3 separate regions of the Homo sapiens genome follow, and all the other regions are linked to region 3. The links come from fine-mapping of genetic effects on gene expression. A gene starts in region 3. Each other region holds a variant in brackets. All regions are shown on one strand. Distances are between the middles of the regions. Region 1 overlaps MYO7B (myosin VIIB). Region 2 holds the start of GPR17 (G protein-coupled receptor 17). Region 3 holds the start of LIMS2 (LIM zinc finger domain containing 2).

Region 1 (10,497 bases), 39 kb after region 3:
CTCCCTGTGCTCAGCCAGGGACCCCAGCCTGCCCACGGGAGCCAGGAGACCCGAGTGCACACACACGGTTGGGTAGCTGTGCCCACCTCTCCTCTTCCCCCTGCTGGCATTCTAAGAGACTCCAAGGTCAGGAGAAAACCTTGGGGGCAGTCTGTCCAGAGTGCCTGGGGGTTGTGGATGACAGAACCCGCTGCATGGACAGCCCTGTGCAGACACGGAGCTGAAGAGTTCCTCAGGTGTGAGCACTGGGTCACCTGGAGTGCCCCCACCGGGTGGTGGGCTCTCATGTTCTCATGGGTACACTGGGAACAGTGAGCCCACCACCTCCCCTGATGACCTGGCCAGCGCTGTGTCCGGAAGCTGTGCCTTGGGTGGCGGCTTGGGTGGGAGGCCATGCGGTCCTGCCCTGATGCAGGCCCCAGCCCCCAGCCCTCATCCTCACATGCAGATCCCTGGGGGAATGCAAGGTGCTGCTCAGTGATCCCAGGCTTGCAGGGGGTGCCTGCAGGAGGCCCCACGTGGACAGGCAGGGCCGCCTCTGCCTATGAGGGCCCACCATGCCGCAGCACCAGGCTGGCACCTGACTCCTGGGGCTGAGGCTGCCGAGGGGGAGGCCAGACTGGGAGGGGATGGTGACTCACAAGGTTACCATCAGTGCCTTAGAGGAGGGGTAGGGTCTGCTGACCCCAGGGCATTCACAGAGGTGTCAGTCCCCTCTGCCCAGTGTGAATCCTGAAAGGCCTGCACCTGCCCAGACTCTGCTTTCTGTCCCCTTCTGTCACTGCTGCCTCCTGGGGCCACTGTGGTCCCCTGGAGTCACTGGCTCCTGGGGTCACTGTTGTCCCCGGGTCACCACTGTCCCTCGGGGTCACCGCTCTAGCCCTGATGCCACCCGGCCCGCCCTTTGTCCTTGCAGCACTTTGTCTGTGCCAAGTGTGAGAAGCCATTCCTGGGGCACCGGCACTATGAGAAGAAGGGCCTGGCCTACTGCGAGACTCACTACAACCAGGTGAGCCCGGTGCAGAACCTTCAGGGATGCGGGTCTGGAGGGGTGGCCAGGAGAGCTGCCGTGAGCAAGGGAGGCTGTGGGCACCCCCTCAGGAGCTCTGCCAGGTGCTGAGCCCAGGCCTGCACCCTCAGCCCTGGCTCCTGGCCTGGGGTCTCGAGACCTGGGCAGCTCTCTTCAGTCTCAGTGTCTTCCTTTGAAGAATGTTCTGGGGCTGGTGTGAGGTCCCGGGCACATGGGGCTGACAGTGCCAGCAACCCCCTCCCTCCCTTGCTCTGGTACAGAAGGCAGGGGGCGCTGGTGGGATGCAGTCACCACCTGGGCCCACCTCCTTGCAGGACAGCAGTGGCCAGAGCAGAGGGGCCTTCTGGGGAGCAACGCCCCAGCCTGTTGTCCTTCCCGGAAGGGTGGTTCTCATGGGTTGCCGTGCCCTCAACCCAGCCTTGCAGCTGGGCCCTGGGAGGCAGGGCCTGGGAGATGCCTGAGAGGGGCCGTGTTGGAGGGCCAGGCTGGCTGCATGATGGCCCTGGGCTGGGGTGTGACTGCCTGCAGCTACTCTGACAGCCTGCTCGGCCCACAGCTCTTCGGGGACGTCTGCTACAACTGCAGCCATGTGATTGAAGGCGATGGTGAGGCCCTGTGTTCCCTCCCCCACCCCACCTGCTCTCCTGGGGCCTGGGTGCTGCAGCTGTGAGCCCAGCCGGGCCTGCGGCAGCCTAGCCAGGCCTGCTGAGTCCCACGCTTCCCTCACAGTGGTGTCGGCCCTCAACAAGGCCTGGTGTGTGAGCTGCTTCTCCTGCTCCACCTGCAACAGCAAGCTCACCCTGAAGTGAGTCCCTGTGATCGTGGGATGGGGCTCAGGGTGGAGGGGGCTCCTGCAGGTCCTTCCTCTCAGCAGCCCTCCTGCACACCAGCTGAGTCTGGCCTGGGGATATGGTGGGGACAAGGGGCAGCCCGGCCTTATACCACCCAGGGAGATGGGGGCAGGTTCAGGGGGTCTAGGGGATCCAGGGACCCCAGGGACCCCAGGCACAGTGAGAGGAGGAGGAACACTCATGCCTCCAACACACCTGCCAGAACCCTGGGCTCTGGGGAGGGAAGGGCATTCCAGCTCAGGGAACAGCATATGCAAAAGCAGCAGTGTCAGCTGCTCATCCAGGAAGCCTCGAGGGGTGTGGGATGGCTGGAGCTGGGAGAGGAGAGATGGCGTCCAGGTTTCCAAGGGCTGTGGGGAGGCATAGAGGGTTCTGGGGTTTCAGAACCTGAGAGAAGCCTCTGGGAGGCAAGGGAAGCCTCAAGGCCCTTCTCATCCCTATGCTCTCTGGCCATCTCACCCTAGGGCCTGGCCTGCTGGCTAGGAGAGGCTGGTGTGGGGAGGCTGGGGGCTGAGGGAAGCCCACTCCACAGTCACCTGTCTGGGGTTAAAGGGGTGGGCGTGGGGCTCTGCTGACAGCTCAGCTTCCTCCTCAGGAACAAGTTTGTGGAGTTCGACATGAAGCCCGTGTGTAAGAGGTGCTACGAGAAGTTCCCGCTGGAGCTGAAGAAGCGGCTGAAGAAGCTGTCGGAGCTGACCTCCCGCAAGGCCCAGCCCAAGGCCACAGACCTCAACTCTGCCTGAAGGCCCTCTTGCGCAGCTGCCTCTCGGCCCCTCCGCCTTCTCCCCTCCTGCTGTCCATGCTTGGCCCCCTCGTCCCCATCCACCTGTGCCCTCCGCATCTTACCCTCCCTTTCTCTTTCCTCATTGCCTTCTCCCTTCCTGTTCCCTCATCTCTGCCTTCCCCATGTCTCTCCTCTCCTTGGCCGTGGCTTCTGTCTGTGAGGAGGCAGGAGCTGGGGAGTGGGAGCCTATGACCCCACGTCTGACAGCCATGTCCACCTGTGCCCACAGCTTCCGCCCACAGACCTCCAGGGACAGGAGCAAATTGCACCACAGCTCCCCGCCTGGCCTGGCCCTCCCCAGGCGGCTCAGTGGCTCATGCTGTCCTGTGAGAGCCCCTGCCCCAGAGCGGCCCCACTAAGCGCATGTGGCTCCTGGGCTACCCACAGCCAGGGCAGCCTGCTGGAGCCACAGGGCCAGGGCCATGCAGATGGAGGCCTCTGGGAGCCACCTCCAATCCCTCACCACTCACTCAACCAGTGGCACAGTGTCCTTGTGCCCACACTGAGCCAGCAAGTCCTGCTGTCCACACCCACAAGCTACCTGGAGGGACAGGACCCACCTCCATCCTTCGGAAGGCCTTCCTGGAATCCCACCTTGGCCTCCGCCCTCGGTTCCGCCCCGCCCCTCTCCCCCCGACCTTGGGGCTTGTGTCGAGCCCTTGGGTGGGGCCAGGAGGAGGTGATGGCGTCAGAGGAGGTGTGGTCAGAGGTGACTTGTTCCCACCTCCAGGGAGGACGCTTCGTCTTCGGCCAGCGCAGACCTGGTGTTTGTTTGTTGGGCTCACGCTTGCACAATGAAGGCTTGTTCACACAACCACAGCAGCCTGCGTGGTTTGTGGCGGGGGTCGGGGGTGGAGGGGATGGCAGCAGCTCTGGACACGCTGCTGCTGGGGCAGTTGAACAGAGGGACAGACATAGACAGGCACGAGTTCAGGGGGCCCTAGCCTCTATCCCAGGCCAGGCTGCCATAAGCAGTTGAAGACTAGCCCTGCCAGGTCCTCACAAGCCTGGGTGGCCAGGTCCACATAAGCTGGCCCAGTGGGCAGAGGAGGAGGTGGGCAGGGACAGGGCATGCCAGCGAGGTGGGGGAATCCAGGCCTCCAAGGTGCTATGTCCAGCTCTGCCCACTGTCTGTCTGGGCATAAGCTGGCCATAGCATGAAGCCAGCAGCCAGAGAGCCGCACCTCCACCCTGGCCTCCTGGGGGTAGCGCAGGCGTATCAATGCCCCGGGTGGGGAGAAGGACAGAAGGTGTGAGGAGGGGCCTGGGAGGAGAACTCTCCCATGAGTGCCCCTCCCCAGTCTGAGAAACAGGAAGGAAGGAAGGGAGGGGGAGGAAGGAAGCAGAAAGGGAGGGATGAAGTCATTTCTGGAGAATGCAGCTGCCCTCCGGGTTCCCTGGGGGAGTCAGTCACACGGCATTTTGGTTTTTCTGCAGCTCTCTGC[G/C]GGCCAGAGCCTCCCAGGCCCCCTGTCCACCTTGTGCCACACCCTGCTCCCTCAGACAGACACACTTCTCCTGCTCCAGGAGTTTTTATTGAACATTCTGGTGGGGTGGGGTGGGGTTGGGAGGTGTCCTGTCAGTCAGTCATCCACCAATAGCCTGGGGGTCCGAGACTCCCGACCCCATTCTGGGCCCGTCTTTTGGCCTCCCTGGGCAGCGCCCAGGACAGAGGGGGCCGCCTGCGGGGCTGAGTGGGCTTTGTATGGGGGGCAGCATGGAAGGCTGCCCGCCAAGGACAGGCCCTGGGTTGAGAGGGCCTGGGAAGGTGCCGCCAGGCTAGAGGTCGGGAAGGGCGCCTGAGCAGACACGCCAGCATCCGCTGCTAGGTGCTGGCCAGGGCTGGGGCCTTGGAGCCCCGCTGCTTGTTCATGGCACTCAGGAGCTGCTGCACATATGAGGTCAGCAGGTCATCCATCTTATAGCCCTGGACAGGGGACGGGGGGGTCAGAGGCTGTGGGTGCAGAGGGCAGGTGGGGGTCCTGGACTCAGGGACCACCTTCTCTTCCTCAGCAACCAGCAGTGCAGGGCATGGAGAAAGGGAAGGCGGGCTCCTGCCATTGGGGCCGTCATTTCTGCTTGCCCTGCTGGAGCTGGGTCTCCCTCCCTCCTTGGAATGGGCCAAGGGCGCAGGGGGTCCCGCCTGGCCTTGCCACCTTGGCTGCTGGTCCTGGGGATGCACCCAGGCCCTCTCCAGATCTGCTGGCCCCGCCTGGGCCCTGTGACTGAGCCCTCTTAGTGAGCCACTTGAAAGGGGTGAGGGTGGGGAACCCAGTCTCCAGCAGCTCTGTCCTATGCATCTTGGATGGGAGAAAGAACCTGAGCTCACCAGGGAGGTCTCGCACAGCAGGCGGCTGCCACGGCCCAGGCTCCCCAGCGCCATGTGGAAGTAGGTGCTGCCGCTGCTCCAGCTGGAGATCTTGGTGAAGGGATAGGTGGTGAGCAGGTCCTGGGGGCAGAGAGGGTGGGTGGGCCGGACGCCTCCAGAGCACGGGCTCTGTGTGTGTTAGGGGACAGGAGAGAGGCAGGACACACCGCAGAGATGACTGCAGCCCCACCTGCACAGGTCCCTGGACCTGGTGGCCCCCAGCCCCTCCGGAGGCCCAGCAGCTACCTTGGTCTTGGGGTGGATGAGCAGAACCCCATGTCGGTTGATGGCGATGAGGATGACGTCCGGGTAGGAAGGCTCCGAGGTTTGCTGGGAGGGAGGGACACGGCGGTCATAGTCCAGCCCGGGAGGCCAGGCTGCACCTCCCAGGAGCTCATCTAGGCCACACGCACATACACACATACACCCACGCCCTCCAGCCTCACGGCCAGCCCCACCCAAGATGTGTGCTGGTTGACGCTGGGCCTGCTGGGGCTGGGCTGAGCGGAGCCTGCTTGGGTAGGAGGCCCTGGCGTGGGGCAAGGTTTACCTTCACCTCGAAGAAGGCGGATCCGAAGGTGGGCCACCGGCAGATCCACTTCAGGAAGGCCACCTTGGCCTCCTCCACTGTCTTGTCCTTATGCTTGTCATAGGCTAGAAGGATGCTCTGGGGGACAGGAGGGCCAGTAAGGACTTGGGTGCCCAGAGGCCCTCCAAAGCCCTGGTGGGGGCAGCACCTGCCTACCCCAGGGCTAGTACGGTGGGGAGGGGAGGGGAGGAATGCAGCATGGGACAGTCTCGGTGCTGTGGATGGCATAGGAAGGCGTGGTGTGTGCAGAGCCAGCCCACCCTCCACACCACCCATGTGCACCCATGTGATCTTGGAGCCCAGGCAGGGCATGGCACTGGTGCAGGGGCCCAGGGAGGAGCAGCAGCACAAGAACCCTTCCCCAGCCCGACCAGGGACCTTTTTCCACTCCTCCGAGGACATCAGGCGTGTGAGGTTCTCAGGCACCAGTTCCCTCAGGATCTTGGGGACACTAGCCAGCTGGGACCGGTCGTTGTTGAACTGGGCCTTGTAGATGAGGCCCGCCAGGTGGATGGCATCCTCCCGCGAACACTTGTGGAATCCGCGCAGGTACTTGGGCAGCTCCTGGGTGATGGACACACTGGGCATGCTGGGTCTCCAGCTGCGGCCCACCCGCCCCCAACCTCTTTCCCGCTCAGATGGTGGGGAACTGGGGCTTAGCCCACTCCATCCAGGACGGACTGAGCAGGGTAGAGAGTTTCAGGCCAGGGGAATGACCCTGAGTCAGGGCAGGGCCCCCTGACATCTGCGTGGAGGTGATGGCCTGCTCCACCCATGTGGTTGGCCCTGCAGGCCACGGCCACTGCTCCATGGGTCACAGGACCCTCTGTCCCACCCTCTCCAAGTCATGCTGCAGGTGCCAGTGCAGTCACTGTCCCCAAACATTGCTGCCCTCTGCTCCTGGTTCCAGAGCCCTCAGGGGCTTGGTCTGCCTACCACATGGGCTGGTACCCAGGGCTGAGGCTGGCCCTGCCCTGGCCTGCTGGCTTCTACAGCCTCAGAACAGGTGTGGGAAGATGGGGGTGGCCCCAGTGCCCACCAGGGCAGCCTGCCCGGTACCTGGTGGTAATGGAGTATGGTGTCTGCATTCACATCCTTCCCTGGAGATATGTTGAGCCACAATTTCCGCATGAAGTACACCTGGTAGGGGAGCGTCACGGGGGCCCCTGGGCGAGGGCCAGCAGTGGGCACCAAGCCTGTCCCAGCAGGTACACCAGCCCTGACCCCCTGCCACCCCCCACACTGCGCCTGCCACCTCCCTGCCTCGAAAGCCCCCACGCTTCTTCCTCCCCAGTCCCCACATTTTCCTTCAATATTAGTGTAGAGGCTGCCTTCTCCAGGAACATTCCTGGACTCGCACTCCCAGCCCATGAGGGTCATGCCCCTCAGCCCTGGGGCATCCTTCATCACTCCAAGGTGCAGCCACCTGTTTCTGCCTGAGCTGGCCCTCACCGCCGGGCCCCAGGGCCTGGTTGTTCCCACAACCCAGGGACACACGGGAACGAATGGATGGATGAATGGGCATGGGCCGCACAGAGGCCGCCAGTGCCCCCTCGACCCACCCAGCCACGCCCTCCCCCAGCTCCACAGAGGCCTCCTCACCTTCTTTCTGGGGCTTGTTCTTCTTCACCCAGTCAGACACCTCCCTCAAGGAATCAAAGAAGAAGTCTCCCTCCTTCTGGCTGATGACCTGGGGAAGGGGAAGGTACAGGGAAGTTGGGTGGCTTCCGGGGACTGTCCTCCTGAGAACCTGCTGGGTTCTGGTCCAGTGGCCGCCTACGGCCTGGGTGCTGCGCTGGAGTCGGCTGTGCGTGGGCTATTGGCGTGTGGAGCTGGCTCTGCTCCAGGACCCCACCTACCTCTGTCCCAGCAGCCCTGGCCGTGCAGCCTGGTCCAGCATGGGTGCCCCTGGTAGGCTGAGGCCCCCACAGGCAGCACCTAGGGCCTCGCTCACTGCCCGTCCGCCCACCGTCTGCCCAGCCCCAGCCCGGCCCACCTTGTCTGAAATCTTGATGAAGAGGCTGCAGCCCTCCCAGGAGGCCAGCTGCAGCCTGGTGGCAATGCTGTCACACACATCCCGCACCCGTGTGTTGGCAACCACCTCCAGCATCTGGACAGAGAGGCAGCTGGTGAGGCCCGGGGCCTGGCTAGGGGCCAGTACAGCCCAGGATGAGCCTTCCTAGCCTGGCACTTTTGCTCCTTCATGAAACTTGGGTTGGATGTGGTCTGCCCTGAGCAGGGCAAGCCTCCCTTCCAGAACCCTGGCCAGAGGTTCATGTTGTTTAGTCCCAGCATTCGCTGTCCTGGGGCCCTGCAGGCCTGGCCTTTTGACTCGCCTTGAGAGCCCAGCAGCCAGACTGTGGGAACTTCCTGTTACCGGGACCCGAATATCAAGGCCAAAAAGACCATTGTGCTGTTGGAGAGGGCGCGAGGCGACACTGCCCACTTTGGCCTCTCAGCCCGCTTGTCTTTGCTGCCCCTGATCAAGGCCTCTGTGTCACGGTGGGGTCCTGGTGGTCTCCTACCTGCCCCCTGGCCCCTTTGTTCCCCCAGCAGCCATGGCAGGCTCTGTGCACAAGGCACACACAGTGGGAATACCTGCTCTCCTGCACCCCAGATGGTCAGAAGCCCCTAGGGGCCCCCAAGTCCTGGGACTCACCCTTGCTGCCCACCCCTCTGTCCTCTCCTGTGTCCTGGGCCTGGATCCCCCAACTCATACCTTGGGACTGGCCTGACTTCCAAAGCACCCAAGGGCAGGTGGGGCCTGCATCCCATGGGGAGAGGGCGGGAGACTGGTTAGGATGGGACAGCCCTAGAAAAGGCTCTCTGGGGTTACCAAGGAGCAGGCTGGGCCAGGAAGGAGGATGCCCCATGGCCTCTGGAGGCCTGAGACTTGCCGTGCAGACCAGAGCAGGGCCTCACCTCACTGGTGTCATTGGGGAAGTAGATCTTGTGGCAGATGCGGGAGACGTTCTGCTCTGCGGCCTCCACCTCCACCTGGTGCGGGGGCTGCTTCCGGGGCCCCGTCCTGAGGGGGACAGCGTGTGCTGCAGGTGCCACCCCCACCCTCATCCTCACCCATGCCCCAGCCCCGATGTGGGCCCTAAACCATGTGCCAGAAACAAAAGAAAACCCCAGTGACCATCACTGGGGTGGTTCCAGCCCCTCGCATGTCCTGGGGGCTGCCCCTGGCTCCACGCGGCCTCAGAGGTAGTGATGGTGCAGCTGTGCCTGAAAGCCTGGGGCACACACGGGGAAGGGCCAGGCCAGGGGCTCCCGGGAAGGCGCCGGCAGGAAAGGCTGGCAGTATTCTTATTCTCGCACAACAGGGGCATCGGGCAGGGGCCAGGGACTCTGGCAGGGCCTCTATGGGGCGCCCACCTCTCTCTGTGACCACGGCTGCCACTGAAATTATGGCCACTCCTACAGTCAACCTGCCCTCCTCACGGCCACAGGAGGCCAAGCCAGAGGAGGCAGGAGGGGTGGGGGAGAGCAAAGACGGCCAAGGAAGAGCTTCACGGCTGTGGGCGGATGAGGGAGGCCGCATGGACTTGGAAGGATGGGCCTCTGACCTCAGCCTTGAGGGCCTGGGCTGGGGCATCCAGGTTTCTCTCTATCCCTCAGGCAGTGCCTCTGTGCCACTGCTGGGCAGTGGTGGGGCAGGGGAGCTGGTGGCTATGACTGAGCCTTCTCTTGACCCTCCTGGGCCTCACCCTCCACCCTCTTCTCTGGCAGCTCGGGGCCCAATCCTGCCTGCCAAGCTGACACTGGCTTCTGGAGAGTCCTCCCAGGACCATGAGCTCCTGGAAGGCTGGCCAGGCCCCACAGCATCCCAGGTCTGCGGGCCCAGGGCCAATGCTGGGGGCTGGAGGCACTGGGCTCACCTCAGGACCTTCTGGATTCGGCGGCTGCAGTCGGGGGCCAGCAGCTTCCCCCTCCGAGTGTCTATAAACTTCTGGGCATGGGGCAGCAGCCCCTTGCTGGGCGGGAAGAGGCCCGTGCACAGCCACAGCAGCTGCCAGCCCCGCTCTTCGCTGTGCCTGAAGGGTAGCACTTGTCAGCCGGGAAAGGCCCCTCAGGGGGCCCTGGCCAGGCAGGCACCTTGGGGAGCAGGGACGGATGTGAGAGCTGCCTGGGGTCTAGAGGGCCCGAGGGGGAGGGCACCTGCCAGGCTGCACCATGCCAGCTGTGCCAGGCTGCCCGATGCCACGGGCTTTCACACCCTCAAGATGGGGGCGGGTGGGCATTGCACCCATTTTGTGGAAGACGACACTGAAGCTCAGAGAGGTCATGGCCTGCCAGGTCACACACAGAGGGTGGGAGTGGGCAGGGCCATCCTCTCCTGCTCTGACCACCCCTAGGACATCAGCAGAGCAGACCAAGGGCCCAACCCTTCCCACTGCTGAGGCAGGAGCCCAGGCAGGGGTTCTGCCGCCACCAGCTGCGGTGTCCTCTCTGAGCCTCGGTCTGGCCTCAGGGGCCGGGATGAGGACTGAGGGTGCCCGCGTGGGCTGGCCGCCGCCCCAGCAGACCTGTTGGAGTTGTGCGTCAGCTGCTTCAGGATCTGGCAGTAGACCTCGTCCTGGAGGGCCGGGTGCTGCAGGGCCAGTGTGAAGATCTGGTCGGTGAGCTCCAGGGTGGGCCAGGCCTGCCGAGAAGGGTAGTCGCCCATGTACCGGAGGATGGGTGTGGCTGTCAAGGAGCACAGTGCTGGGGCAGCCCCACGCTGACACAGACTGGGGATAGACGCTGACCCCGACCCCGGCCCTGCGGTGAGCCATGTGTGGGCTCTGTCCCGCCACTCCAGGTTTCTCAGATCTCCTGGGCTCTCCTGCCCTAGAGCACAGCTGTAGGGCCAGGATGTGCTGGGTGCCTCTG
Region 2 (6,099 bases), 29 kb after region 3:
TTTTACCCAGCGTCAGAGACACTGGCCAGCGCTGTTGAGGACGGATCTGCAGCCCCAGAGAGGCCTGGAGGCCTCGTGGCTTGCCCACGTTTGAAGGCCAAGTGCAGAGCCCTGTGACAGTCCTGGGTAACAAGTCATGTCCGTCTGGTGAACCCTGGGTCTGGATAGGGTGCTCCCCACCCTCAGCAGAGAAACCCACTCTTGTTTTGATTTTAGTCAACTCAGAAGATTGAAGAAGGAGAGTGAGGGTCCCAAACACTCTGCCTCCCCAACCCAGGCCTGCGAGTGGCAGTGTGGGCAGGCGGTGGGGCCAGAGCAGCCCGCAGCCCGGAACCAGGGCAGGACAGCGCACCTGGCCTGCCTTTGAATTGGGGTCACCAGCGGGCTTCGGCCAGGTGGGTGCTGATGATGGCACAGCTTCTGGGGCTCCTCTGGGCACCTGGCTTCCCAGTATCCACCATCCCCACCCTGCACAGCCAGGCTGAAGCAGAGGCTGGAGAGAGGTTTGCATAAGAGAAGCTGGCATCCTGCCTGTGCCCATTGTGGCAGCAGGAGGGGAGGAGGCACGGGCCACAGCCCTGGCAGGGTCCTCATCCTGGGCGAGCCTGGCTCTGCACCGAACAGCCGGGGTCCTGCCTGCAGCAAATTCACTCTGCACATTTCTCCCTGCCCTTCCTTCCTTCCTTCCTTCCTTCCTTCCTTCCTTCCTTCCTTCCTACCTTCCTCTCTCTCTCACTTCGCTTTGCTTGTTTGCTTGCTTTTCTTTATTTTCCTTTTTTCTTTTCTTTTTTCTTTTTTTCTTTTCTTTTTCCTTCCTTCCTTCCTTTCTTCTTTTCTCTTTCTTTCTTTTTCTTTCTTTCCTCCCTCCCTCCCCTTCCTCCCCTCCCCTCCCTCCCCTCCCCTCCCTCCCCTCCCCCCCTCCCCTCCCCTCCCCTCCCTCTCTTTTTTCTTTTTTTCTTTCTCTTTTTCAAGGTCTCCCTCTGTCACCCAGGCTGGAGTGCAGTGGTGCAATCAGCTCACTGCAGCCTCAACCTCCAGGGCTCAAGTGATCCTCCCACCTCAACCTCCTGAATAGCTGGGACTACAGGCGCACACCACCACACCCGGCTAATTTTTGTATTTTTTGGTAGAGACGGTTTTGCCATGTTGCCCAGGCTGGTCTCAAACTCCTGGGCTCAAGTGATCCTCTCTCCTTGGCCTCCCAAAGTGCTCCTTGGCCTCCCAAAGTGCTGGGATTACAGGCATGAGTCACTGCGCCCAGCCCCTCTCCTCTTACTGATTCCACAGGGCTGTCTCAGGATGCTGGTGGCACGGGGCAGAGAGGGCATGGTGACTGTTCATGGACACAGCAGCCCCTCGAGGAGGAGGCTGGAGCCATCCTCATATGGAGGAGAAGCAGGCATGGTGGTGGCCCTAGCCCTAGGGAAGGGTGGGCCGCACCCTTCCTTCAGGAGAGCGAGTGGCCAGCTGCTGTGGCCCTCACATGGAGGGTGAGGGCTGGCCCGAGCACCTGGCCATCAATGTCCTCAAGCAAAGGGGAGGGCAACTACCTAATAATATTACCTTTTAGCTATTTCTCTAGGCAGGTTCCCCTACCTGAAAAGATTGCCCCCGGCTTCAGAGTGTTTCAAGATGCCTGAAGTTCTAACACCAGAGATGGTTTCCTGCTGCTTCCAGGAACAGGGTCTGTTCTTAGTCCAATGTGGAGTTCCTCATGGGGACCCCATTCCCCAGGA[A/G]TCCAGGTTCCACAGTACTCTGACTTGGTCTGGCTGGTCTCGGCTGGCACTTTCCCTAGGACTGCTAAAACCACGGTGAGGGCGGAGAGCTGAGGGCCGAAGAAGGCGGGGTGAGTGATGCTTGGGAGAGGGAGACAGGCTTGGCTGAAGCCCTGGGGAAGGGCTGAGGGCTGTGAAGGGGGCTGTGGAGGAGAGGTAAAAGGAGGGAGGAACACAGCCCTTGACAGGGCCTGTGAGGCAGGGGAGAACAGGGAGCAGGTACCGGTGGGACGGTGGCAGGGGAGGGGGGCCCATGACTTTGAGGGTGTCGTGTTGCATGTGCTGGGGGTGAGGACCCGGAGACTGGAGGAACAGGGCTCCAGGGCAGACGCATGGGCAAGCAGAGAGGACAGCCCATGGTAGATGGGAGGGGCACACAGGTGTGCTGTTTTCAGGTTGGCAGGAGAGGAGGAAGGTGTGTGCGGGGAGGCCCTGGAGACTGGAAGAGGAGAGGGGGCCCAGTGAGTGAGGGGCCCTTGTTAGAACCTGGGGGTGGGAAGGGGCCAAGGTGGGTGCCCTCCACCCCAGGCTGTCCCTCAGGCCTGTGCTGTGCCCCACAGTGCAGGCATCACCTGGCCCCACGAGAGAGCAGCTCATAGGTACGACTGACCACTCTGCCTGGCATGGTGGGGGCCTGCCTGTGCTGGCTCAAACCAGTTTTAGCCCCATGTTGCAGGTTAGGGAGTCAAGGCTGAGTGTCTGCTAACTTGTCTTAGGTCACTTGACCAGGGGACATTGGCCCTGGAGCTGGAAGTGAGACCGGGGAAACGGTCTCACTCCCTGGAAGACCGCCAGGGTGGGGAGTGTGACTCAGTCTCAGAGTTTGCCATGGAGTTGTCTCCCAGGCTCAGCACCCCCTCCTGGCCCTGGGGCCACTCCCTCATTTTAGGGGCCCATGTATGAAATGAGAATGTGCAGCCCCTTGCTCAAAAAGGAAGAGTTTCAGGACAGTGACGGCAGAGTGTTACTGGGCTCAGGGCCCTGAGTGACGGCAGGGGTGGCATATCTCATGGCACCAGGTGGGCCTGTGGTGCCTCCTGCCTCCAGCCCGGGGGCCTCAGCCTGGGCACTGCCCTCCACTTCCTGCCCGGGCCGAAGGGCGTGCCCCTCGCTCTCTCTGGGACTGAGACTCCATTTTAAACAGCTTTCTGGTTGGTTTCAGGTTTGCTGAGGTTTCTTCTCCCTTTCTGTCCCCCGTTTGAGGAGTTCTGATACTGATTGTTGCAGTTTGGTCTGAGATGGGCCCCGCTTCACTCTCTGTTGCCCTTTAGAAACACAAACTTCAGTCTAGACTCGCTGGTTCCTCACGACTCACTGGTCAGACGGCCACCGAGCCGGTGTCCGTAAGAGGAAAGGGCGTGGCATGGGCCGGGGCCTGGGCAGTGTTGGGTCCCGTGGCTGTGGGTGAGTCGAGCATCTAGGACAGGTCATAGGCCTCTGTGGAGGTGGCAGGTGGGCATGTGTGGCCTCGGGGAGGGCCTGTGGTGGCAGCGCCATGGCCAGGTGGTGGCAGTTTCCTTTGCATTAGCGCCACTCCATCCCTGGCCCGAGCCCTCTCCCAGGCATCTGGCTCCTCTATGGGTCAAGGCTGCCTAATGGTTAGGGGCAGCGGTGCTGTCATTGCAGCCTGGACTGCCGGCAAGCCACTTCCCCTCTGCAAGCCCCCATCAGAGGGACGAAACACCGCTTTGTGGGCTGCTGTGAATTCAGACTGTGGTCAGCCTTCGATGCACAGGTCAGACCATCACCAAAGAGATGGGACGAGACAGGCTGCTGCCTGTCTCCCTGGGCAGGGCTCCCCGCTGAGTGTTTCCTCTGCTTAGCCCTGGGCTCCCAGTCCACCCCACCCAGCCTGCCCCTTACCTCTAGCTGCTGGTCCGGGAGGAAGGGACAGGGGTCTGCGGGGCAGCAGGTGATCTCCGCCCGTGGGTGTCGGTGGTGGCAGGGGGCTCCTTGCCGCTGTGGGTGGAACGCTGGCTATTTAAGGAGAGGAAGGGAGACCACAGCCCCTCTGGCCCTGAAAGGCTGCTTCATTCCTGAGGGGTCCCTTGTTGTGTCGGGCTGCTCCTCTGGCTGCTGCTGCTGCTGCCACCGGAGCGTGAATATTCTAGTGTGTCCCTAGCCCATGCCCCCCGCCCCCAGCTTGGCCACATAGTCTGAGTGTGTGACTGTCTCAGAGACTCAGAGCAGGCGGGGGCTGGGTGGGGGGCTTGGGCTGGAGCTGAGGGACACAACAGGACGTTTCAGAAGGGGATGATTTCCTACTGATGGGGGGCAGGGAGGGGCCGGCTGTCATGGCAACAGGCGGCGCTCCCAGGCCTGCGCCCGCAGACGGCGGAGGGGGCCTGTGAACGGAGGGTGGGAGGCCGAGGAGTCTTGCTCACGGAGTGAGAGGCGACTCTTTGAGGACACTTGCTGTAGGGTCCTTGTGTCCTGCCCTGTATAATGAGGCCCCATTTGGGCACACAGAATAAATCATGGCCTTTATCTGGAGCGAGGAACAGCTGCAGGAGCCTCATAATGGGGCGCTGTCCTGTCCGTGAGGATGCGGCTCAGCTCAGAGGCCGGGTGCTCGCCGGTGCAGCTCCCCTTCTGCACGGAAGCCCATGAATCTGACCGCTGGCCTGGGGCTCCTCCCTGGGGTGGCTCCGGGCTGGGGTGCCTTTGAATGCTGCCGGCGGCCGCCTCTGAGACTGAGTGAACAAAGTTCATTTCTCTCTGTCTTTCTGAAAATGATACATCCAGCAACATGGGAAACCAAATCACCCTTCCTGGTTTCAAAAGACTTTACATTTTGTTGTTTAAACATTGAAAACTGTATGTATGTGGCTAGCATTTAAGGGGCAGTGTCTTAAATTTGTCTCTTCACATCACCCTGTGCAGCTGGGATTATTGCCCCATTTTACAGACAAGGAAACTGAGGCTCAGGCAAATGAAGAAACTCACCCATCAACAAACAGTAGGAAGCAACAGAGCCAGGATTTGAACCCAAGCACATGTCACTCCAGAACTTAGGCTCCGTGTGTGTGTGTGTTTTGTTTTTCTGCTGCATTTTGAATTTAGAATTCTTAGATTTGATCCTAATTCAACCTGAAAAAGAATTCTGAAGGCCACCTTTAGATCTGATGCTGTGATCTGGTCTGTTGAGAAGCTGTTTCCCATCTGGACTTCCTTCAAGAGAGATGGGCTTCCCAGTTTGTCTGGCCTGAGAGCCAGCTGGGTGTGAGGTGTCTGAGCCGGGGCGCAGGTCTCTTTCCTGTTGTGCCCGCAGGCGGCTGTCTGGAAGAACTGGCCCAGGCTGGTTGGAAAGGTGGTGGCTTGAAGCTAACCACCCTGAGCAGGGCATTTCTGGGCTCACAGACCTTCTGTTATTGGGGTGATCACTGTCGATGGCTTCAAGGGCATTGACCGTGGTGATGGAGTTTTGAGGCGTTGAGCTGATTCCTGCATCTTTGAGACAGAAATAATTCCTCGTGGGTTGAGTGTTGTCCTGACGCTCAGGAGGAGTCACCAGAATGTGGAGTGGGGTCATGGGGCCTACATGCTGAGTCTGGGACAGAGGCACCGCAGGGGGCATGGGCTGGCCGCCATAGGCGCCAGGTGGGGCAGCTCAGCCCCAGACCTGCTGAGGAGGTGGCCTGGGGTTGGGGCTGGGGCACAGGTGTCTGGGCAAGGGTGGGCTTCAGGGATTGTGGTGATGAAGACTGAAGCCACAGGCCACAACTGCTTCCCGTCGCTGGGGTGTAAGAGCCAGGGCTCTGGCCAGTAGTCGAGGGGAGATGATGCCCACCGAGGCTCCCTTCCTCTCTTGTAGAGTCATTCATTCACCGAGGCATTCGGTCAGCTGACCCTGAGCTGTTGCCCCCTGCTGGGCACATAGGGTCTTGGGGAGGCACAGAGAGCCAGTCGGCAGCTTAGCCAGTGACTGCTGGGCCTTTGTTTGGGCCCCTTGCCCTGCACACAGCTGATGATGAGACACCCCAGGGCAGATGGAGCACAGTGCTGTGCAGGATGGAGTCCAGACACCCAGCAGTAGCAGGTCCTGGGGTCCAGGGAGGGATGCTGAATGGGTGGCCCTGGCATCTGGGGTCTGCCCACCATAACCTGGGTGGGGATCTTGGGTCTGCGATTGGATCTCTTCCGTATCCTCCCTGACCAGCCTGTCAGAGGGGCCAACACTGGGCGTCGGGCAGCCGTGGAGGCTCGTGAGGAGTGGAGAGGGCCCCTGGGGCTGGGGGGCCTGGGAAGGGAGGCCTGGATGCAGCAGGAGCACCAGAGAGAGATTCGGGTGGCAGGTGGAGACGGGGGCCAGGGAGGTTGGATT
Region 3 (10,497 bases):
AGGCGGCATGGGGACGGTGAAGGTTCAGCCCACTGTGGCCGCACGCGGGGCCTTCTGCGGGCGAGGCCACGTTTGGATAGGCTGGGCTTGGGATGGGCAGCTGCTCTTTCCCCTGGACAGAGTGGAACAAGCTCCAGTGGGAAGGTCACAATGGGAAAAAAGAAGCAAAGTGACCCTCAGTATGTGGAAGAGATACTCTCAGAGGCAGGGAGAGGCAGGTGCCCCGCAGGTGAGGAGCTCTGCGCCCAGGAGGCTTCTTGCTGGATACTCGACGGCATGATGTGTTGAGGTGTTAAAATGTGGCATTCCTGGATATGTGGTGGGGGCTGCCCTCGGGTAGCCAAACCCATGAGATGAATGGAGTCTGTCCCAGAGCAAAGGCGAGAGTGAGATGGCCTTTTCCTCCCGAACTCCAAGGCCAGGTCATCTTTGGAAAATTGTGAAGCTCGATGGTCCACCTCTACTCCTGAGTAAATCAGACTTTCAAGAAGGGCACTGTGTTCCCCTCAGACTGAAAAGAATCCCTGGGTCTCTTGTGTGTTCTGCAAATGTTGAGAGAATTGTGGATCGACATTCCGCCAGCTTCTCTCACTGAGCTGCCGTGTGGCACAGGGAGAAGTAAGGCCATTTTGTGCTGGTCAGAGGGTGTGTCTAATGACAGTTCTGAGGGCAGGCTCATATTTTTATTTTTATTTATTTATTATGATTATTTTTAAAAGACAGGAGATTGCTCTGCTGCCCAGGCTAGAGTGCAGTGACACAATCATAGCTCACTGTAACCTCGAAATCCTGGGCTCAAGCGATCCTCCCACCTCAGCCTCATGAAGAGCTAGGCCCACAGGCATGCACCATCGTGCCCAGCTGGTTTTATGCTCCTAGTTTTAAAAAGAGACATTTACTTTTCAATGTGTTGTGAAACCTGTGGGTGCCAGGGGCGGTGTCCTGCTCACTATTCTTCCTTTGGCCCAGGGAGCCGCCCGGGAGGGCTCCGGCTGTGCAGGTGCTTCCCCGCTCCCCCCCGGGGGGTTCTCACAGCCACTTCCCAAGTTAACTTTGGTCTCGCAGGAGGCGGCTGAAGGCTTTGAACTTTGTGTTGATATTCGGCAGGTCTCTGTGTTTTGCCAGTTCCCAGTGCCCTGAAAGGGACAGGCCTTAACCAGATTTGGGGCACAGGCCTTGTAGAGTGGCCGTCTGGGTGGCCTCACATCACACGGGGCCATTCTTGGAACAGGCAGGATGAACAGCCTACCTGTTGGGAAGGCATGCTAGCTCCTGCCCCAGGACCTGGGCTGTGGCAGGAGACCCTGAGGCCTCCTGAGAGCTGCAAGGCCTTCTCCATTCCCTGTGGTCACATGGGGACAGGGCTGTGGCTCTGGATATTGGCGGAGGCTCATTGAGGCACTTTGAGACCCCGGGTTCTCCTCAGCCTCCTACTGCTGATTAGCCACGCTGACCAAGCCCAGCCCCTCTCTTGGCCCTGGGTCCCAGCTCCCACGAGCGTTGGGCCCTGGGCTGTCTCAGGTAGCTGTCCCCTGGAGTAGGGAAGGGAGAAGGTGGGGGGTGGAGAAACTCGGGTACCTGCCCAGCAAAGGGGGTGCCCACCTGCCCTGAACCCCAGAGGGCAGAAGGCTCGTGCCCAGGGAGATGCTGCACCTCCTTCACCTTCTAGGACAGCTGTCATGTCACTCTGTGGCCCAGCCTCAGCCTCAGAGCCCCACTGTCCCCCAGCGAAGACTAAGTGTGTGATTCAAGCCACTCTCTGAATGTCCCTCAGTGATGCCATCCCATAAGACCTGGGAATGGACACTGCATTCTCACCTTCCCTCCCCTTCCCCTCCCCACTTCCAACTGCCGTCTCTTCTCTGCCCCCCCTTTCAGAGCATTCTCCCCCCAGGGGCACTGTGTGCAGCACTCTGGGGAGCACCATCTACACAGACCCCAGGGAGGGGTGCTCCTGGGGGAGGCATTGCAGGGGCCCTGCCTGCCCCTCTGCAGCTGGACTCAGGCCCCTCACTCCAAGGGACCGGCTCTTGACCCAAACCCAGATGCTTCCCTGGCCTCTGCACGCAGCAGTGTGCACACGGGGCAGTGGCGCACCTCCTCCCTGGAGCTCTTTCCCTCCGGGCTTCTGTGGCACCTCACACTCTCCTGCTCTCCCCCTCACTTTCTGCCAGTCCCACCTCTTACCCTTGGAGGGCTCCTGACTGGTACAGACACCCCAGGGTCTCCATGGAGCCCTAGAGTTGAAATTCCATTTGTACCAAGCCTTCTGCATCTACGCTGGAGAATGGACCTCTCTTCCCTGCTCCAGGTTCACAGTGCCCCGCCCACCATCTCCCCTGGGATGCCTGGGGAGGGCCCAATGCAACGTCACCCCTCGCTAACCTGCCCAGACTGTCCCACTGCCACCAATATCTAGGAAAGCAAGGCCACCTGCAAGTCCTCTTGACTCCCACGGCTGTACATTCACACCTGCCACACACACACCTGCCCCACAACCACCACACCTGTGCTGACCACGCCCACGCCGGCCACACACACACATCCAGATTCCCAGCAAATCCTGTTGGTTGCAAAATAGATCCTGTGTTTGATGCCTTCTCAATGTCCCTACTGTCGCACGGCCCAAGGCACCAGTCCCTCCTGGACGCTCACCATAGCCTCTAATCAGACTGTCCCTGAGACCACTCTGTCCCTCACACAGTGGCCACACAGCAGCTAGGGACACTTCCCCCTTTTGCTATGAAAAAGTTCAAGCACTCATCAAAGTTGAAAACCCAGATACCCACCACCTAGATTCTCCCATTAATATCGTCGTAGACTCACGTTACCACCTCTCTGTCCTTCCCTTTACCCATCTCCCCATCTTGAGTTCATTTTTTAGAGGCAGAGTCATGCTATGTTGCCCAAGCTGGTCTTGAATTCCTGGCCTCAAGTGATCCTCCCTCCTCAGCCTCCCCGTAGCTAAGGACTAGCTGGGACTACGGGGATCCACCACATCGGCTCATCTTGATTTAAACAATGTATTTCAAAGTAAGTTGCAGACATCAGTACCTTTCTACCTAAACACTTCAGCATTGTATGTCATTAACTGGAGTTCAGTATCGTTTACGGTATTTTTCTTTTGAGGTAAAATGTACATATAATGAAATGTGCAAATCCTGGCCATATATTCCATGAGTTTTAACAAAGGCATATACACTTGTGTGACCCAAACTCCTACTAAAACATTGCCTGTTACCCCAGAAACTCCCTCACATTCCTTCCTAGTCAACCCCTGTCCTGCCACCTCAGGGCAGTCCGGGGTGTAATAGACCAGCCTGAGGCAGCCACCGTTCTGATTTTTTCTACCACAGACAAATGTTGCCTATTCTAGAACTTGATATAGATGGAAAAGGTGCTCTTTTTTCATTCAGTCAGTATTTCTGAGATTCACCCCTGCTGATGCTAGAGTGTTGTGTCTGTCTTTGCTTAGAACTCTCCATCTAAGGGTGGAATCCTACTTCTGCTGTGGCCCTGCTGCTCTGCCCTGGGCCCTCTCCTTTATTTCCCGTGCCCCTCCACCTGCCACCTCCCCTTTTTCCAGACCCACTGGTCTTCTTTCTGACCTTGCGTACCCCAAGCTCATGTCACCTCAGGGCTGTTGCACTTGCTGTTCTGCCGGAATGCTTTTCCTGCAGATGGCTGAGGGCTGGCTCTTTCCCTTATTCTGGTTTAGCTTGAATGTCACCTGCTCAGAAACTTTCCCTCACCCTTCACTCTAAAGCAGCCACCACCATTGTCCTTTTCTTTGCAGCACTTACCCTTGTCTAAAATCTAGTTTGCGTATTTATTTATTTGTTTATTGCCCATCCTCCACCTCCTGCTAAACTCCATGAGAGCCTGGTCCATGGCTTCTTTCTCCCCCTAGTACTTCCAGTGCCCATGCGGTATAAATACTCTTGAAGGAACAAGTGGATAAGTGTGTGAATGTGTGATTGCCAGCTCTTTCCTGCAACTCTGCCCTCTTGGCTGAACTGTGGGAGGCTGGCCCTGGCTCCTTGAAGCCTCTGCATCTCCAGCAGGGCTAAGCCATGCCCACAACCCCTACCAGCTGTTACTGAGCTTGCCCTGGCCCAGGGATGAGGCACACTGGGAGCTGCATAGGGTCCTGGTTTGGCCACATACAGATCCGTGTGTGCTCAGCTATCATATGCAGGGAGGCTTTTGGGCTAAAAGGCAGGAATGTGGTCTCCTCTGTGGAGAGCATGGGCCTCTGGTGTAATGCTTTCAACTTTTCATCCTCTTTGGTTCCCACAAGACCCTGATATTCAATTAACCGTCCAGCAGTGGATTTCTGGTGCACGGCCCCAGCATGCCTACACCTCTGTGTCAGTAATGGTGGAAAGCCTTTCTCCCTGTATGAGCAGGTGAGCCAAGAAATTATCCATACTTAAGCTTAATCAACCATCAAATTACAGTTAAGCCGAATCAGCTGAGACACGCTCGCAACAAGAAGTAATAACTCGAGACAGTCGGATCACCTGAGGCCAGGAGTTTGCAACCAGCCTGACCAACATGGTGAAACCCATCTCTATCAAAAATACAAAATTAGCTGGGTGTGGTGGCATATGCTTGTAATCCCAGCTACTTGGGAGGCTGAGGCAGGAGAATCGCTTGAACCTGGGAGGCGGAGGTTGCAGTGAGCGGAGATTGCACCATTGCACTCCAGCCTGGGCAATAAGAGCGAAACTCCGTCTCAAAAAAAAAAAAAAAAAAAAAGTAACAACTGCAAAGGCACTCCACAATACCAGCCACTTAGGAACAGGTGTCTTTTCCCAGCTTATTTCTGCAGGTGGAACTGCAGGATACTATCAACTCATCTTTCTGAACGGCACCAGTTTATTTGTGGGTTGCTAATTCACACCGTCATTTCTAGATCATCTTTCTCTGCTGCCAAGACCGGAGTAGCACCACATTTACACATCAGGCCGCCCAGCTCCCAAACCTCAGTGTGACATCTGGGCTGCTTCCAAAGATGAGCTGCACGCCACTGTCCAGCTGGAAATATCTGCCTTTAGGCAGGGCGGGGGTTTTTTGTTTTGTTTGTTTGAAAATTTCCTCCGAAGAGATTCCCTAAATAGTTTATATTACCCCTCCATCTTAACGCCTCTAATGGTAGCTTCTCAGCGCTTCATTATACAGAGGCGTGCCTGGTTCCCCTGGAAACCTGGGAGCTGGGCATTTGGTTTTGTCGTTTAAGAAATATCTTTCGCCAAGTTAGGGCGATGGCCCGCAACGGGGGATGAAATCGGAATTTCCCGGGGAAAGCAGCTTTGCGACTGAAGAGGGACGCCTCTCGGCTTTAGCCTCCCTGGGGGCGGGACTGCGTGGACTCGGCGGTCCCGGGTGCCTCGGGAGGGAGTCAGTGCCCAGATCCGCGGTGGGAACTCCGGGCTAGGAAAGCCCGGGAGGGAGGTGGTCTCAGCATCGCCCCCACGCCTACCATCTCCTGCACGCGTTTGCGGTTGGGGCGGCCCAGGGACTGCAGAGGGGGCGCCGGGCGGGGCGTCCCGGCGGGGCTGTGGGGGTGGGGGTGCTTGTTCGCGTTTATTATAACTTTACTCCCTTTAAAAGGAAAGCTATGCCCGGAATCCAGGAGGTGGCGAGCAGAGCCCGGGTTGGGAAGGACTTGACCCGCGCCCGCCGCTGGCCGCGCTCCGTGTCCCTGGAGCTGGGGCTGTGCGGGAGCGGGGCCCACCCTCTACCTTTACCCCTACTTTTACCCCCACTCCCACCCCCGCCTCACTCTCACCCCTCCAACCCCACCGTCAGCCCCACCTTTAACCCCCACCCCTCCAACCCTACCCGCCGCCACCCCCACCTGCCACCCCCACCCCCACCTATACTCCCGCAACCTCCCACCGTCACCTCCCCAACACCCCCACCACCCTCAGCCTTGACCTCCCCATCCCACCCCGCCCCGCGGGCCCCACCCTGCCACCCCCGCCCACCCCTCTCGCGGGCGGAGCGGCTCTTGGCCTTTTTTGGGCGTCTCCCTGCTCCGCGGCCCGGGCTGGCGGGCGGGCGCTCGGCTGGCGGCTGCAGCAGCAGAGGGAGACCCGCGGCAACCCCGGCAACCCAGGGCTCGGCGTCGCTGCCACCATGACGGGAAGGTAACGGCCCCCACCCACGCCCCCGGGCCGGGGAGGCGGGACTGCGGGACCCCTGGCCGAGGCGCAGCTCGCCCTCGTACAGCCCCGCGGCGCCACGATCCCCGCTCCGCCCTGGCGCGTCGGATTCTCGCAGCTGCCGGGGCGGCAGCGCCCGTCGGGGCAGGGGTCCCCCAGCCCCCGCGCCTCTTCCTCTGGGCGAGCGCCTGCAGCGGAAGGTGGAGCTCCTGCCCACCCGCCCGCTGCAAGATGGGACAGCCGTCTGCTCACAACCGACGCCCAGGGCTGCGGGAGGGGGTCTTGTCCAAGGTCAGACACCAACCACGGGCAAAAGGTTCAAAGGTTGCGTGCCTCCCCCAACTTCCCCGAGCCCGCGCTGTGCGATCCCCGATCCCGGTGAGTGTCATCTCTGGAGCCTTCCGTTTCCTCCTCTGTAAACCTGGGGTGGTAAAAATGTTAAAAATGTTGAAGGGTATGTTGGAACTTGGCCAGAGCTGCGCCCAAGCACCAGCTGTGCAGGGGTTGGTTGGGGACAGGGCGCTCCCCTGGGCCTGGCCCACCCTCTGCTCTCAGGCCCCTCGTTGCCATTTCACAGATGAGGTCACCAGAGGCCACAGAGGCTGAGCCACTCAGGAGGCCAGTCACAGGTCCACCAGTGTCCGGCCAGTGTTTGTCCCTGCAGCCCTTTCTGGAACCTAGCTGGGTACAAGTGCATGACTCAGGACTGGGTGGGAGGGGGCTGTCCCTGAGGCCCTGGTCTCCCCCAGCCAAGTCCTGGCAGGGGGATGCTGTTCTTCAGGATCCCATGACCTGGGGCTCTTGGGGAGCCCCAGCCCGGAGAGTGACCTGTGGCTTTGCTGGGGAAAGGGGCTTGGAGGGTACAGGGCAGTGTCCAGGATTGCAGTCTCAAATCCGAGGCCCACAGGGGAGCTGCCTCTGTGATCGCCATTAAGGCTGTGGCCTGGGGTCTCAGGGCAGCCCAGGAACCAAAAATAGCCTGTAACTTGTCACTTTGTAAGTCCTGCCCTCCAGACACACTTCCCTTTCTTCTCCCCAAGCCTCTCTTCCCAGTTAGCTCCCCTGACTTGGAGTCACCTCTAAGCCTTGGCCCAGGCCCCTCTGCAGTGAGATGGAGGGACTCATCCCCCGGAGAGTGGCATCTGCAGGCCCACTGGCTGCCTGTGGTCACCCCCTAGGGTTCTAGCGGGGCTGCCTCCCATTTTCCTCAGAGCATCCCTGCCAGCTGGCTGGTTCTCACTCTCCTGTTTTCTAGGAAAAGAAAGTGGGGAGAGACAGGAACAGGGTCCGGAGCAGCCCCAGCAGCAGCATTGAGGTGGAGGTGGGTGAGAGGCGGTTCCTTCAGGCACAGGAGGGATGTCGAGGAGAACAGAGCCGTGAAGGGTGCGGGGCTGGAATGGGAGGCCCCGAGGTGCCACTGCTCCCTGGCAAGGGTCCTCTTGCCCCTGAGTCCCTTGGGCCTTTCCCTGGAGACGGAGGCCGTCAGGTGAGCCCGGCCGGAACCGCTGGGAAGGCAGGTGGTGGCGAGCAGGGGTCAGCCTTCCCTTGCTGCTGTGGGCTCCAAGGGCCTGAGAAACTCTTACCCTCAAATGACACAGGGATGACAGTCAGCCTTTGGCAGGCACTGTGTAGGGCGTTCCTCGTCCAGGCAATACTACTCGTCTTAGAGAATAAGGAGAAACCTGGAAACATAAAAGATAACAGAAACATAAAGAGAAGGAAACTGCCACAGTTCCACTCCCAAGAGCCTCCCTTTATGCAGTTCGGTGGCTCCCCGCAGTCCTTTCTCCTGGAGTTTGTTTGACGCAGCTGTGAGCGATCTGAGTGTAATGCACCCGCTCCTTCAAAGGTGACCCTGCTGCCCGCAGTGCTGGTGCCCCACTGGCTTCCCTGCCTTCCATACACAGGGATTGGGCCGGGCCAGTCTGTGAGGAACAGACATCCAACCCGGCCTTCGGAGTGGGCGAGAGTTTTCCTGTCCCAGAAGCAGTGGAGTTTCATTTCCACCGTTTCATGCTGGGTGCCCTTCCCCACGTCCACTGTTCCCATGTGATCCCGGGCAGCTCCTCGTGCCTGGATCCTGGTTCTCTCGGGATCCCCCATGCTGCCCAGAGCCAGGCTGCTTTTGGGAAACACCCTCTCTGCTCGCATACCTTCAGGGCTTCTCCCTGCCAGCTCTCCCTAGGACCTCACCAGGCAAGAGCAGAGGGAGGGCTGTGGGGAGCCACCAAAGTGACCTGGAGTGGCATGTGTGGCCATGCTGTCTGCAGATGAACCCATGGGTGCTGTGTGGAGAAAGGGCTGCTGGGAAGGAGATGGGGAAGGAGACAGAAGGCAGCCACTAGGGAGGCCTCTCCTGGGTGGCTGAGCGGGTGGAGGAGAGGAGGCTGACTCAGGGTTCTGGGAGGTGGAGTGGACAGGACCCAACTGACTGGCTGTGAGGTGGGCCACAGAGGGTGGGGCTCGGGAGGATGCCCCTCCTGTGATGACAGGTGGGGGTGGATGGCATGCTTGGTGTGGTTGTGGAGTGCTTGAAGAGCTGTGGCAAGTCTGAGGGGGAGCCGTGGGAGGCACCTGGGCATGGAGGGGCTGAAGCCCAGGAGTAGCCAGCTGGGCAGGGAGTGAAGGCAGCCCAGAGCATGGGGTGGCACGCCGTGGGAAGAGAGGGGGCTCGGCCTCAGCAGCAACTCAGGGACTTTGCAACTTACAACCACAAGATCTTTGACTATCACAGCTGAAGGGACCTCTGGCATCACCATTGTTCTACAGGGAGGATATTAAGGCCACCTACCTAGGGACCCAGCTGTCCCTGGCATTCCTGGAAATGGAGCCTGGGATGTTGACACCCACGGCCACGTGAGCTCAGTGGCTTGGCTGCATAAAGTGGAGTCCCACCCATGGTGTGACCGTCATGTGTGTCACATGTGAGGCTGTCGTATGCCTGATTGTGTGCTGAGCCCATGCTTAGTACAGCGCAGAGCAGGCTGCTAGATCCCTGCCCTCATATCCACCAATCTTGCCCCTCCTCCGGGTGAGGAGTGTGCCCGGTGGTCCCCTAGGCAGAAGGTGTCGGCCAAGGGGCAGCTGACTGCAGCTAGAGCCCTCAGCACAGCACACGAGGCTGCAGTGGCGTCAGGGGCTTAAGCAAACTGTAAAGTGGGTAACAAGTGATGTGGCTTGTGATGTGGCACCACTGAGCCCTGAGCCCCAGACTGGGCCAGGTGGCACTGCCATGGCCCCTCACCTCCTTCCTTTTTCTTCTACTTCTGGTGCTGACTGGCCCCTTCTAGCCGGCCAGTGGCATAATAGGGATGGAGGGACTGATCTGCAGGGTGTCCAGTCCCGTGGTGTGATACCCCCACCTGGGCTCATTTCAAGCCACCAACATGGCATTAACGCTTTACGGAATTCCTGAATAGTTAACAGTCAGCACTTGTGAACTGGCAAGGGACAGCCCAGGGAGCCACTGGGGAGAGGAGCCCGGGCTTTCTATCCACAGCGGGTTATCCTTCTTCTGTCTGTCCCTATCTGTGCTGTGCCGCATGCAGGCTCTTTTTTTTTTTTTTGAGATGGAGTCTCGCTCTGTCACCCAAGCTGGAGTGCAGTGGCGTGATCTCAGCTCACTGCAACCTCTGCCTCCCAGGTTCAAGCAATTCTCTTGCCTCAGCCTCCCAAGTAGCTGGGACTACAGGTGCATACCACCACAACCGGCTAATTTTTTTTGTATTTTTATTGGAGATGGGGTTTTACCGTGTTGGCCATGGTGGTCTTGATCTTCTGACCTCTTGATCCACCCACCTTGGCCTCCCAAAGTGCTGTGATTACAGGCGTGAACAACCGTGCCCAGCCTGCATGCAGGCTTAACCATCCCTTAGGTCTTCACTTCCAGGTGGGAAAGGGGCCAAGGGAGGCACTGTCACTGTCTTGCTTGTTCTGTTGAGGTGTAGCGTGTACATTTCTGAAGGTGAATATTTACTTAGATGACTTAGCAGGATGACCACCCTAGTGAGATACCTCCATGAGTGAATGCATATGTCTTGCTGAGATGAGGTGACTGAATACACATATGAACATAAAACCTACTGTGTCCTCACCCACGTCCTTGGAGGAATACACGGGAAACTCATGGAGTTGTCTTCAGCCTCCCAGCGAGGAGTCTGGTGGGGGAGCTGGCTCTGGAGGACAGCCTGTTTGTGGCATCTCTGCCTCTGTCCGTCTCTGCCTCTGCCCACTGGGCTGAGGGCACGTGCCCCAGGGCCTTGGGGAGGCAGCCCTGCCTCATAGCTTGGGGCCTCAGTTCCAGCCTCTAAGAAGCCATGTAGTTGCA

Evidence for each region.
Region 1: its variant is fine-mapped to the expression of LIMS2 in whole blood (TOPMed, PIP above 0.99).
Region 2: its variant is fine-mapped to the expression of LIMS2 in esophagus mucosa (GTEx, PIP 0.97).

The regions. Positions count from the first base shown.
Region 1 is chr2:127,631,408-127,641,904 of GRCh38, reverse strand. MYO7B (myosin VIIB) reads right to left here. Exons shown (of 48, transcript NM_001393586.1): 38 at 10,152-10,305; 39 at 9,504-9,659; 40 at 8,542-8,647; 41 at 7,616-7,729; 42 at 7,222-7,309; 43 at 6,679-6,785; 44 at 5,998-6,183; 45 at 5,581-5,697; 46 at 5,277-5,360; 47 at 4,992-5,111; 48 at 4,179-4,589. The coding sequence ends at 4,488. It overlaps LIMS2 (LIM zinc finger domain containing 2), which reads left to right. Exons shown (of 10, transcript NM_001161403.3): 7 at 917-1,009; 8 at 1,587-1,635; 9 at 1,760-1,835; 10 at 2,477-3,479. The coding sequence ends at 2,624. Among named protein-coding and RNA genes, the nearest start is that of MYO7B-AS1, 5.9 kb to the right of the region's middle. RefSeq lists enhancers at 2,266-3,211, 3,212-4,158, 4,159-5,105, 5,106-6,052, 8,349-8,578 and silencers at 8,849-8,898, 8,999-9,088. The variant G/C (reference allele first, on the strand shown) is at 4,111.
Region 2 is chr2:127,643,784-127,649,882 of GRCh38, reverse strand. All of the region lies in intron 4 of LIMS2 (LIM zinc finger domain containing 2), which reads left to right. GPR17 (G protein-coupled receptor 17) reads right to left here and starts at 3,730. Exons shown (of 2, transcript NM_001161417.2): 1 at 3,639-3,730. RefSeq lists enhancers at 1-169, 196-923. The variant A/G (reference allele first, on the strand shown) is at 1,737.
Region 3 is chr2:127,670,672-127,681,168 of GRCh38, reverse strand. It overlaps LIMS2 (LIM zinc finger domain containing 2), which reads left to right and starts at 5,639. Exons shown (of 10, transcript NM_001161403.3): 1 at 5,639-6,155. The coding sequence starts at 6,145.